Homo sapiens: one gene and its partners. The protein of the gene in region 1 purifies or fractionates together with the protein of each later gene. This does not show direct contact. Each region holds a gene or a part of one and is shown on either strand. Other genes may lie near its edges. The genes, in order: SYDE2, MPRIP and PALM2AKAP2.

Region 1 (3,660 bases):
GACTAAAATTGAACTAGAAAAAATTTGAATTTTACATATAAATATGATTTATATTATTTAGAAATCAAACTGCTAGTACAAGTGTCAAAGAATTCTAAGAAAAAGGATATACAAACTCTGAGCCTGCCTTTATAAAAACTATAGTGCTAACAAAGCCTTACCCTAAGCAAAACATACCTTATAAAAAGTTTATCTAGAATGCTTTATTCATAGTATACCTCTAATCAATATTTGAATAAGTTTCAATTCATTATTACAAGGACCAGAAGTCCTTAGAAATATAATATTCCTCCTACCCTTTTCACACAAAGATTAACTTTCAAACCTAACAAGAAACTATGCCTTACTAATATTAAAATGTCAACATAACATTGGCTTCCTATCCACATAACACAATGGCACCTTATGTAGGGTTTAAGTTCTAAATATCTAGGGCAGAACTAAAAACAAAAATCCCTTCAGAAGGCCCCAGATTAGAAGCAGGTATGCTGTCTCACAGTATGCACTACACAGCTATTATTTTTTTTGGCCAGGCACAAACTTAAGCAGCAGAGAAATAAGAATGAACAAAACAATCCCTTCCCTTAAGAAATTCATAGTCCAGGCCCTGCGCAGTGGCTAATGCCTGTAATCCCAGCACTTTGGGAGGCCGAGGCAGGAGGATCACGAGGTCAGGAGTTTGAGACCAGCCTGGCCAACATAGTGAAACCCCGTCTCTATTAAAAATACAAAAATTAGCCGGGCATGGTGGCACGTGCCTGCAGTCCCAGCTATTCAGGAGGCTGAGGCAGGTGAATAGCTTGAACCCAGGAGGTGGAGGTTGTGGTGAGCCGAGATCGTGCCACTGCACTCCAGCCTGGGTAACAGAGCGAGATTCCGTCTCAAAAAAAAAAAAAAAAAATTAATAGTCCAATGGGAGACCTCAAATGCTTAGATATATGCACATCTTAATATAAGTAAGACTCTACAAATGTATACATAACATTAATTTCATCTAAAGAGGAAAATATTTTGTGTTTCCAGAGTTGTAAAGCAGGCTTCAATGACAGTCCATAAGCTAAGTATATAACTATCATTATAATAAAAATTCACCGTACATAATTAAAACCACATTTTAAAAATCTAAGATCATCTCAGGTTTCTAAATTATGGAATTATATGGTCAACTCATCTTATTGGCACAGCAAGTAAAAAATAATGGTCTAAAAATAGAGTGATAAAACACACTAAGCCACAAGGAGCTTAAAACAACCAAAAAATCAGATTTATGCAGAATCAAGGTTTTCAGTAACCTCCCTTCTACTGAAAAGAAAATCCTTTAAAAAATCCAAATGTCCAGCCTGGGCAACATGGCAAGACCCTATCTCTACAAAAAATTTAAAAATTAGCCAGGTGTGGTGGCACACACCTGTCATCCTAGCTACTTTGTAGGCTAAGCTGGGAAGATTGCCTGAGCCCAGGAATGTGAGGCTGCAGTGAGCTATGATTGTGCCACTGCACTCTAGCCTGGGCAACAGAGTGAGACCCTGTCTCTTAAAAATAAATGAATAAATATATTTTTCCTTTTACAAAATCCTAAACATGTACCCAACCAAGCAGATTAATAATAAATAAATAAATAAACAAACCTTAAACACAAATTGCAAGTCACATTCAATTCCAGATGCAGGAATTAGACTAGAAATCAGAAGGCAAGGAAGCTCCCATGAATACCTACTATGCCAGGCATTTATTTACTCCACAAATGAGTGACTATTATGTGGCAGGCATGAGAGATAAAGAAGTAAGGAGGCCCCCAACCTCATTTAACCTCTAGAACAATCCTATGAAACAGGTATGATTACCATCATGAGCCTCAAAGAGTTTGAGAAATATGGTCAAGTCGCTAGCCCTAGGATTCAAATTTAAGCCTGTCTAACCTTAAAACCCATGCTCTACTCACCATGCTACCCACAAACCACACGATGCTACCCATACCATGCTACTCACAAACAGTACAGAAGTAGGCAACCCTTTCTGAACATGGGGATATTCATCCCAATTTATCTTATAAATTAAAGTGGCTGCTGGTAAGAACTAAGTGAAATAATGTTCAAAATACTTGAAAAACTATTAAGTTCTACTCAAAAACGCCAAGTAACTTGTTCAAGAGTACCTTGTTGGTAAATGGAAAAGGCAGCACTCAAACTTATTCTGACTCCAAAGTTTGTGGTGATATATCTAGGCTACTATAAGGGAAATTCAAAAGTCTTTCTCTGGTTCTATCTCCATTACACTTAAAATTAACAACTGAAAATTAAAACATACTCAGCAATCACTGGGGTTTCTGGGTTTTCAGTGATCACATGATTTTGCCAGGTGCACTGAAGTCTAAATCTATTTCACATTTAAGTTCAAATCCAGTATTACTTAACAGTATTTCAGACCTTCACAGGATATTATAGTTTGACCCAATTTAAATTTGAAGCAAACAGTATAAAATTACATTACTCATGATGGCTATGAGCCACATCTTATTTTATCTTTTTCTCAGACATCTCTTAGAAATTCCAAATTTTTATATAGCTAGACACATTCATTATTTTAAATCTTTTTGGAGTTTTCTGACATACACTATAAATGAGTCTTTGAACATGTTTCTACTACATTGCAAGGAACTACAGTGAGAAAAATAAAGCTACCAGTATCCCATATTTAAGCAAGTTGATACTTCCATTGATATAATCATTTAATGAAAGTATAATATTAAAAGGAATTTTTTTTTACTAGATAGGGTCTCACTCTTGTCACCCAGGCTGGAGCACAGTGGCACCATTATGGCTCACGGCAACCTCAACCTCCCAGGCGCAAGTGATCCTCCCGCCTCAGTCTCCCAAGAAGCTAGGACTACAGGCTTGCACCACCACACCTGGCTAATTTCTTTTTTTTCTTTTGGTAGAGACAGGGTCTCACTATGTTGCCTAGGCTGGTCTGGAACTCCCAGGCTTAAGTGATCTTCCTGTTTCCCCCTCCCAAAGTGCTGGAATTACGGTGTGAGCCACCATGTCTAGCCACTATTTTCAATGAAATTACAAACTACAAAAGCTTGAATCCATTCACTCTGATTGCTATTGCCGAATATTTTAAAATACATGATGCTGAACTTTAAACTTATAGATAAATGGCACATTATTATAATTTATATTGTGTATTATAAATATATAATATTACAAAGGCCAAATTTATTTATTAAACTGAATTAATCAACACATTATTCAAGATAATAAACTTGAGCAATTATTTATAATTAAAACATTTTTATCTCACTTAAATTAAATGGATCCACATGAATGTAAATTCATAGATATGGAAAGCTATTTGCAATCTGCCCTCCCATTTAATGCAACAATGTTTAACCATATTAGCATAAATTTAAGAGTTTTAGCTTCATATATATGAAATATGTTATTCATAAATTATAAATATTTTTGTAGAGAAAGGGTCTCATTGTTGCCTATATATTGCCTATAAATTATAAATTTTTTTGTAGAGACAGGGTCTCACTGTTGCCTATATATTAAATTATATATTATATATAAAAATACATACAATATATAATAAAATATATTTCATATATAATATAAAAATATGTTATATATACACACACACATATTGAAAGAA
Region 2 (3,660 bases), on another chromosome or scaffold:
ATGGCATCAGACCTGGAAGGGACTTGGAGATCAGCTAATGTAACCACTTCCTCTTACCGGTGAGAAGATTGAAACCCAGAGAAGGGAAGTGACTTGCCCAGTTCAGGGATGGAGCCAGGATTCTGAAGCCAATGTTAGTTCCCCTACTCCTGTTCAGGGTCTACAGTGGCCACACCATGAGCACATGATGAGGACAATAATGTCAGGGATAGTTATGTTGCAGGAGGTGCCTTGAGAATGCTGGCTTGGAGCAGTGGAGTTCTTTGCCTTTTCCTCCTCACGGAAATTTGGAGTAATCTGGGATAAGTGATAAGTGACCGTCCTTTATTACTTGTTCCAGGCCCCTGTTCACAGAGTGTCATTTATCCTCCAGTTTTCCTGTGCATTTCTCAGCGACATACGGACCCAAATATACAGTTTTTTTTTTTTTTTTGAGGCGGAGTCTCGCTCTGTTGCCCAGGCTGGTGTGCAGTGGCGCGATCTGAGCTCACTGCAAGCTACGCCTCCCAGGTTCATGCCATTCTTCTGCCTCAGCCTCCCGAGTAGCTGGGACTACAGGCACCCGCCACCATGCCTGGCTAATTTTTTGTATTTTTAGTAGAGACGAGGTTTCACTGTGTTAGCCAGGATGGTCTTGATCTCCTGACCTCGTGATCCGCCTGCCTCGGCCTCCCAAAGTGCCGGGATTACAGGCGTGAGTCACTGTGCCCAGCTCAAATATACAGTTAAACCTTTTTATCCTGAACTGTGTGCATGTATTTGCTCTGCGACATATTTTTTGTTTTCTGCTTATCAGCATATCTTTACGTTCTTTTCATGGTGTTGCATATAAAGATGCCAGAACCATTTTGCATATTAGGCCTTTAGGAGTGTACTATAATTTAACCCGTTTCCTTATTGATAGACATCAAGGTTGCTTATGGGTTTTGCTGTTACATACAGTGAATGTTTCGGCAAAGAGTCTTATAAATACTTCTGGGTGTGTGTGCGTGCATGCATGAATGCAAGTATTTCTCTGGGGGCAGATACCTATAAATAGAATGGCTGGGTTGACATCAAGCGCATAAATTTTTTTTTTCAGATACCACGAAATTGCCTTCCAAAAAAGGCTGTGTGATAACATTTCCAGGACTGGATATTATCAAATGATTTAATTCTCTAATAATTTTCCTAATTACTCATGAAGTTGAGCCTTTTTTATAGTATTTACTGAGTATTTTTGTTTCTTTTGTGGATTGCCTGTTCGTATTGCTTGCCCATTTTTCTGTAAGGTTAGTTTTTCCCCCAGTTGATTTGTAGGAGCTTTCTATAAGTGCTTTAGGTCAGGGGTCTGCAAACTTTTTTGGTAAAAGGCCAAATAGTAAATATAATTTAGTGTCTGTGGGCTATATGGTCTCTGTCACAACTGTGCAGACTTTGCCGTCTCATCACAAAGGCAGCCGTAGACAACACATTAACGAATGAGTTCGAATGAGTTACTGTGTTCCAGTAAAACTTTATTTACCGGCAGGGCGCAGTGGCTCATGCCTGTAATCCCAGCACTTAGGGAGGCTGAGGTGGGTGGATGATCTGAGGTCAGGAGTTCAAGACCAGCCTGGCCAACATGGTGAAACTCTGTCTCTACTAAAAATACAAAAACTAGCTGGGTGTGGTGGCACATGCCTGTAATCCCAGCTACTCCTTGGGAGGCTGAGGCACGAGAATTGCTTGAACCCAGGAGGCAGAGGTTGCATTGAGCCAAGATCGTGCCACAGCACTGCAGCCTGGGCAACAAAGTGAGACTCCTTCTCAAAAAAGTAATAATAATAATAAATTTAAAAAACTTTATTTACAAAAACAGGCAGCTGGCATGATGTGTGGCCTGTGAGCCATAGTTTGCTGACCCTGAACTAGATATTAATCCGATGCTTGCCACGTATTGCAGGTATTTTTTCCCAGAATGCCACTTGTCTTTTTTGTGTGGTTATTTTTCTTTTTCATAATATAAATGCAGTTGGTCTTTTTTTTTAATAGTTTGTAGTTTTAATGTCATGTTTAAGGCCTACTTTCCAAGATTTGTAAAATAATTTCTCATATTCTTTTATAGCTATTTTTATACTTAGCTTTTTAATCTATCAGACTTGTTTTTTAGGAAAATAATTCTGGTTAAAGGCAGAAGATCTACTGGAGGCTATTAAACTGGGTAAATTACAATCAAGGCATTCTCTCCAGATCAGTGCTGGTGAGGATGGAAGGAATCAGACTCTAGGGACAGGATGTTGTTGGTTGATCAGAGGTGGGTGTTGAGGAACCTGGGGTAGTTAGAAGTACCTTTAACAGAGATTGAGAAGAACAGATTTGGAGTAAACTTGGGGGATGGGGAGGGGTAAAAAATAATATGGTAAGTTTGACCCTTATGGACGTAGAGGGAGGCTGGGTTGGAATTCTTAAGTCTTGGATGTGGAGGTGGTTGCTGAAATCATGGGAGTGAGTGTGAGCACTCAGGAGGCTGCATAGAGTGAAAGGAGAGGAACCAGCCTAGGAAGCCCCCATGTAGTGGGCAGGCAAAAGGGGAGCAGGTGCAGAGGCTGGGAGGTGAATCAGAGGGGTGGGCATTAGTGGGAGAAGCAGGTCTGGAACCCAGGGTGCTCAGCTTCTACATCCGCGTGTTGATCTGGGGGTGATGTCTCTTTCTCCTGCTGACTGTGTAACTTCAGGCATTGCCTCTGTGGAAGGAGCCTGCAAGCCTGTTTCTACTTCTTTGTCTAGCCCTGTTTTTTTGTGGGACCTTGGCTGGGTCATTTTCATTGCTCAGGCCTGTTTTCCCATCTGGAAATGAGCTCGGTCTTGATCTCTCCCAGGGTTCTTAGTCTTCCTGGTGTGATTCTGCCCTTGCTGTGCCCATACCCCACTGCCAAGGCTCCAAAGCTGCGGGGGCCTCAGGTGGGAATTTCAGACATAGAGGGTGTGGGCCAGGACGAGGTCTCAGGGAAGCATTTCATCAGGTTTCCCTTTGTTCCTGTAGACATTCGTAGAAGTTCTAAGGCATAGGACTTCCTGATTTGACTTAATGTGTATCTCAGAAACAACGGGGAGATTTCGCATCCCCCCCTTGTAGAAGATCTGTAACAGGAGTTGGTGTGTTGCTTGGCAGGGAGCGTGTCAAAAATCTCAGACACACAAAATCCCATTTCAGACGGCCAAGCACCATGACAAATGCTCAGCGTTGTCATCAGCGAAACCCAAATTGAAACCACAGTGAGATATCACTTCATACCTGTCAGGATGGCTAGAATTAAAAAAATAAGAATATAACATGTTGGCGAGGATGTGAAGAAGTTATAACTCTTGCACGTTGCTGGTGGGAATGAAATGGTGTAGCTGCTGTGGAAACAGTTTGGGGGTTTCTCAAAAAGTTCAGCATAAAACCTACCACGTGAGCCAGCATTCCCACTTCTAGGTATATGCCAAGAAGAATTGAGGACAGGTGTATTCAAACAGATACTTGTATACAAATGTTCATAACAGCACTACTCACAATAGCCAAACGGCAGCAACAATCCAAGTGTCCATCCACTAATGCGTAGATAAGCAAATCATAGTGTATCCATACCATGGAATATCATTCAGTTCTAAGAAGGAGCGAAGTACTGAGACATGCCACAACATGGACGAACCTAG
Region 3 (2,567 bases), on another chromosome or scaffold:
TTAAATTTCTCTATGGTGAAAACTAGGGGTCAAGTAGCAGATGAATACTGGCTGTGAGATGAATGCATAACCAGAACCTCCCATTCCCCTTTTTCCAGCGTCTCTCCTATCTCCCAGCAGTGCTTTATCACTTTCTCCTCTCAAGTTGATAAAGAGAAAGGAAGAAAGAAACAGAGAAGTCGGTTTATGTTCATAATTAACATCCATGAACTCTGCATAATTTTTTCCCCTCTCTTTACAGGTCCTCGAGGCCACACGGGTTAATCGAAGAAAGAGCGCACTGGCTTTGCGCTGGGAAGCAGGGATCTATGCCAACCAGGAGGAAGAAGACAACGAATAAACTTCCTTCAACCCAGGAAGCGTCTTTGGTGCTTGGGAGACCAAGAAACCAAGAAATTAACAACTGAAAGCATTTTAATGGACTATTTATTAAAGTGCAAACAAACTCAGCAATCCTTATGTAGACCAGAAGCTGCAATATACAATGATGAAAATGAAACGAAAAGGAAGTCCCCCCATCAGACTCTGGACACCCAGGAATCAAAAGAGAAAGGACTTTTTTGGTGACTCAATCCCAGTGTCTGGTTTGGGGCCAATCTACAATGGATCCAAAAGGACAAAACATGTTACAAGCAAATCAACATAGTTGCTGCAGGCGGAACTGAGACCAGCCTCTCTGGGCGATGAAGGACAATGGTGGTAGGGCCACTTAGAGAGCAGTAGGGCCCAGGCTGGTGCAGCCTACATGGCACAGGATATTTCCCTGCACCAGTTTCCCACCTGTCACTTGCAGCATCAGAGGGTGTTGCATTAACTCCATTTTCTCCAGCAGCCATAAAATGAATGGCGTTTCTCTCCATATTTGCCCAGAAGAGGCAGTTATGATTCCACTTCTCCTACATTTAATTATTTTTAATTGAGAACAACTCATGATCACAATTCATAAAATCCATATTTTAAGACAATAGTTCTTCATGTCACAAACACAATCTATTCTACATGAGGAGGCTGAGAAAGGGGAAGAGAAAAACAAACCAAATGGATGATGTTAGCTTTAGGATCGTGTCTGCTTATAATATTCACTGATCTGCAGTTTATGAGAACACATTTTCACAGTTATGTTTCTTCATAGGAAAACTATATTTAGTGGGCAACAACTATTTTTATGATGGGATGGGGGAGTATATACACGTATAGAATCTGTACGCGTTGAACAACTTGGTTCAAGATGGTGGGGGCATTTTTAGAGCGGCAATAATTGAAAAAAAAGGCGAACTCTGCCTTGGAGAGGTAGATGATAAGAAATAAAAAGGTGTTTATAACTATTTTGTATTATAAAGTGGGCCTTAGAGATAGGAAGAAGAATGATGGATTCCTTTTGGATCAATCAGAAAGGAAACACGAAAGAAAAGTCAGGAAGGTAGAGAGAGAAAAAGGGAGGGAAGGAGAAAGAATGGGAATAAAATAAGGAGGTAAGAGATACTATTTTTGCTGAGCAACCAGTGTGTTTCAGGATGATACAAAGAAAAATATAGAATAGAAATAAGTGCAGGCTTGGAATCAGCTACAAATCCTAAAGATGGGGTGTGTGTGGATGTGTGTGTGTGTGTGTGTACACCATTGTGTGTTTGTAAAATGTGTATGTTCATGAGTAAGGGTGTGTGTGTGTGTGTATTAAAATTCCAGAGTGACCGTGGCACTTGGGTGTACAGGTAATTCCTCCAGAGCTGTTTGCTGGCTTCAGGAGTGGAGTGAGAATTTCTTTTTTATGAAAAGGGATATAAAGGCACCGAGCTGATGCAGTATTTGTAATATTAAGTTGACCTAACAAGGTATTTGCATGAGTCACAATTACAAAGTTTTGAGCGGTTTTGTAATTTGACATTTAGGAGAGTCTCCTATTTATTCTCATACTTTACATTCATGCTTAGTATACTATAGAGGATGCCAGCTTTAATCTTTCTGTCATTTAAAGCAATATGATAAGGGTATTCAATAATTGGGTGCCCTAAATTTCTGGATGAGAAAATTTTCAATTCTGGCCATGAGAAAGAAAAAAAAATAAACAGCCTTCTTTTTTTTTCCTTTGTTTTAAAACTGTGGTTTTTTAAAAAAGCAATAATTAACTCAGACCTCACTAAAAATCATTTTTGTTTTTATATTGTTATGTCATAAGCTCTATTATGTTATTCTAACAAGTAGCAATTTCACAAAATTTGTATGTAGATGTTAACGCACATTTCCTTTGCTTCTTTTATTAGACTAGTGTTGACTTTGGGGGGGGACATTTATTCACAAATGAGAAGTAGGCACAAAGTAAAAAATGGAACCATCTACTAACAAGGATCCTTTAAAACTGCCAAGGGAGCTCTAACTTGAAGCCACATCCTACAGATGGCAGCCCAAATAGCACATGGGCAATTGGCACCATCTTTATATGGTTGAGTCTCCTGAATATTTTGAATGAATTCTCAACAAAATGTGCTAGCCACTGGGGACGCAAAACAAGTAAGATCCCTGTTGCAAGAAATTCATTTTATAGTGAGGGAGGTTGGCATGGAGACTAA

Evidence for each region.
Region 2: the proteins of SYDE2 (region 1) and MPRIP purify together in Homo sapiens (affinity purification with mass spectrometry; one large-scale study listed by BioGRID and IntAct). This does not show direct contact.
Region 3: the proteins of SYDE2 (region 1) and PALM2AKAP2 purify together in Homo sapiens (affinity purification with mass spectrometry; one large-scale study listed by BioGRID and IntAct). This does not show direct contact.

Annotation. Positions count from the first base shown.
Region 1 is NC_000001.11:85,190,875-85,194,534, forward strand, and holds part of SYDE2 (rho GTPase-activating protein SYDE2), read right to left. Parts: intron 1-3,660.
Region 2 is NC_000017.11:17,045,391-17,049,050, forward strand, and holds part of MPRIP (myosin phosphatase Rho-interacting protein), read left to right. Parts: intron 1-3,660. UniProt on the Homo sapiens protein: Targets myosin phosphatase to the actin cytoskeleton. Required for the regulation of the actin cytoskeleton by RhoA and ROCK1.
Region 3 is NC_000009.12:110,168,158-110,170,724, forward strand, and holds part of PALM2AKAP2 (PALM2-AKAP2 protein isoform 3 (PALM2-AKAP2)), read left to right. Parts: intron 1-241; coding exon 242-340; 3' UTR 341-2,567. UniProt on the Homo sapiens protein: Binds to regulatory subunit (RII) of protein kinase A. May be involved in establishing polarity in signaling systems or in integrating PKA-RII isoforms with downstream effectors to capture, amplify and focus diffuse, trans-cellular signals carried by cAMP.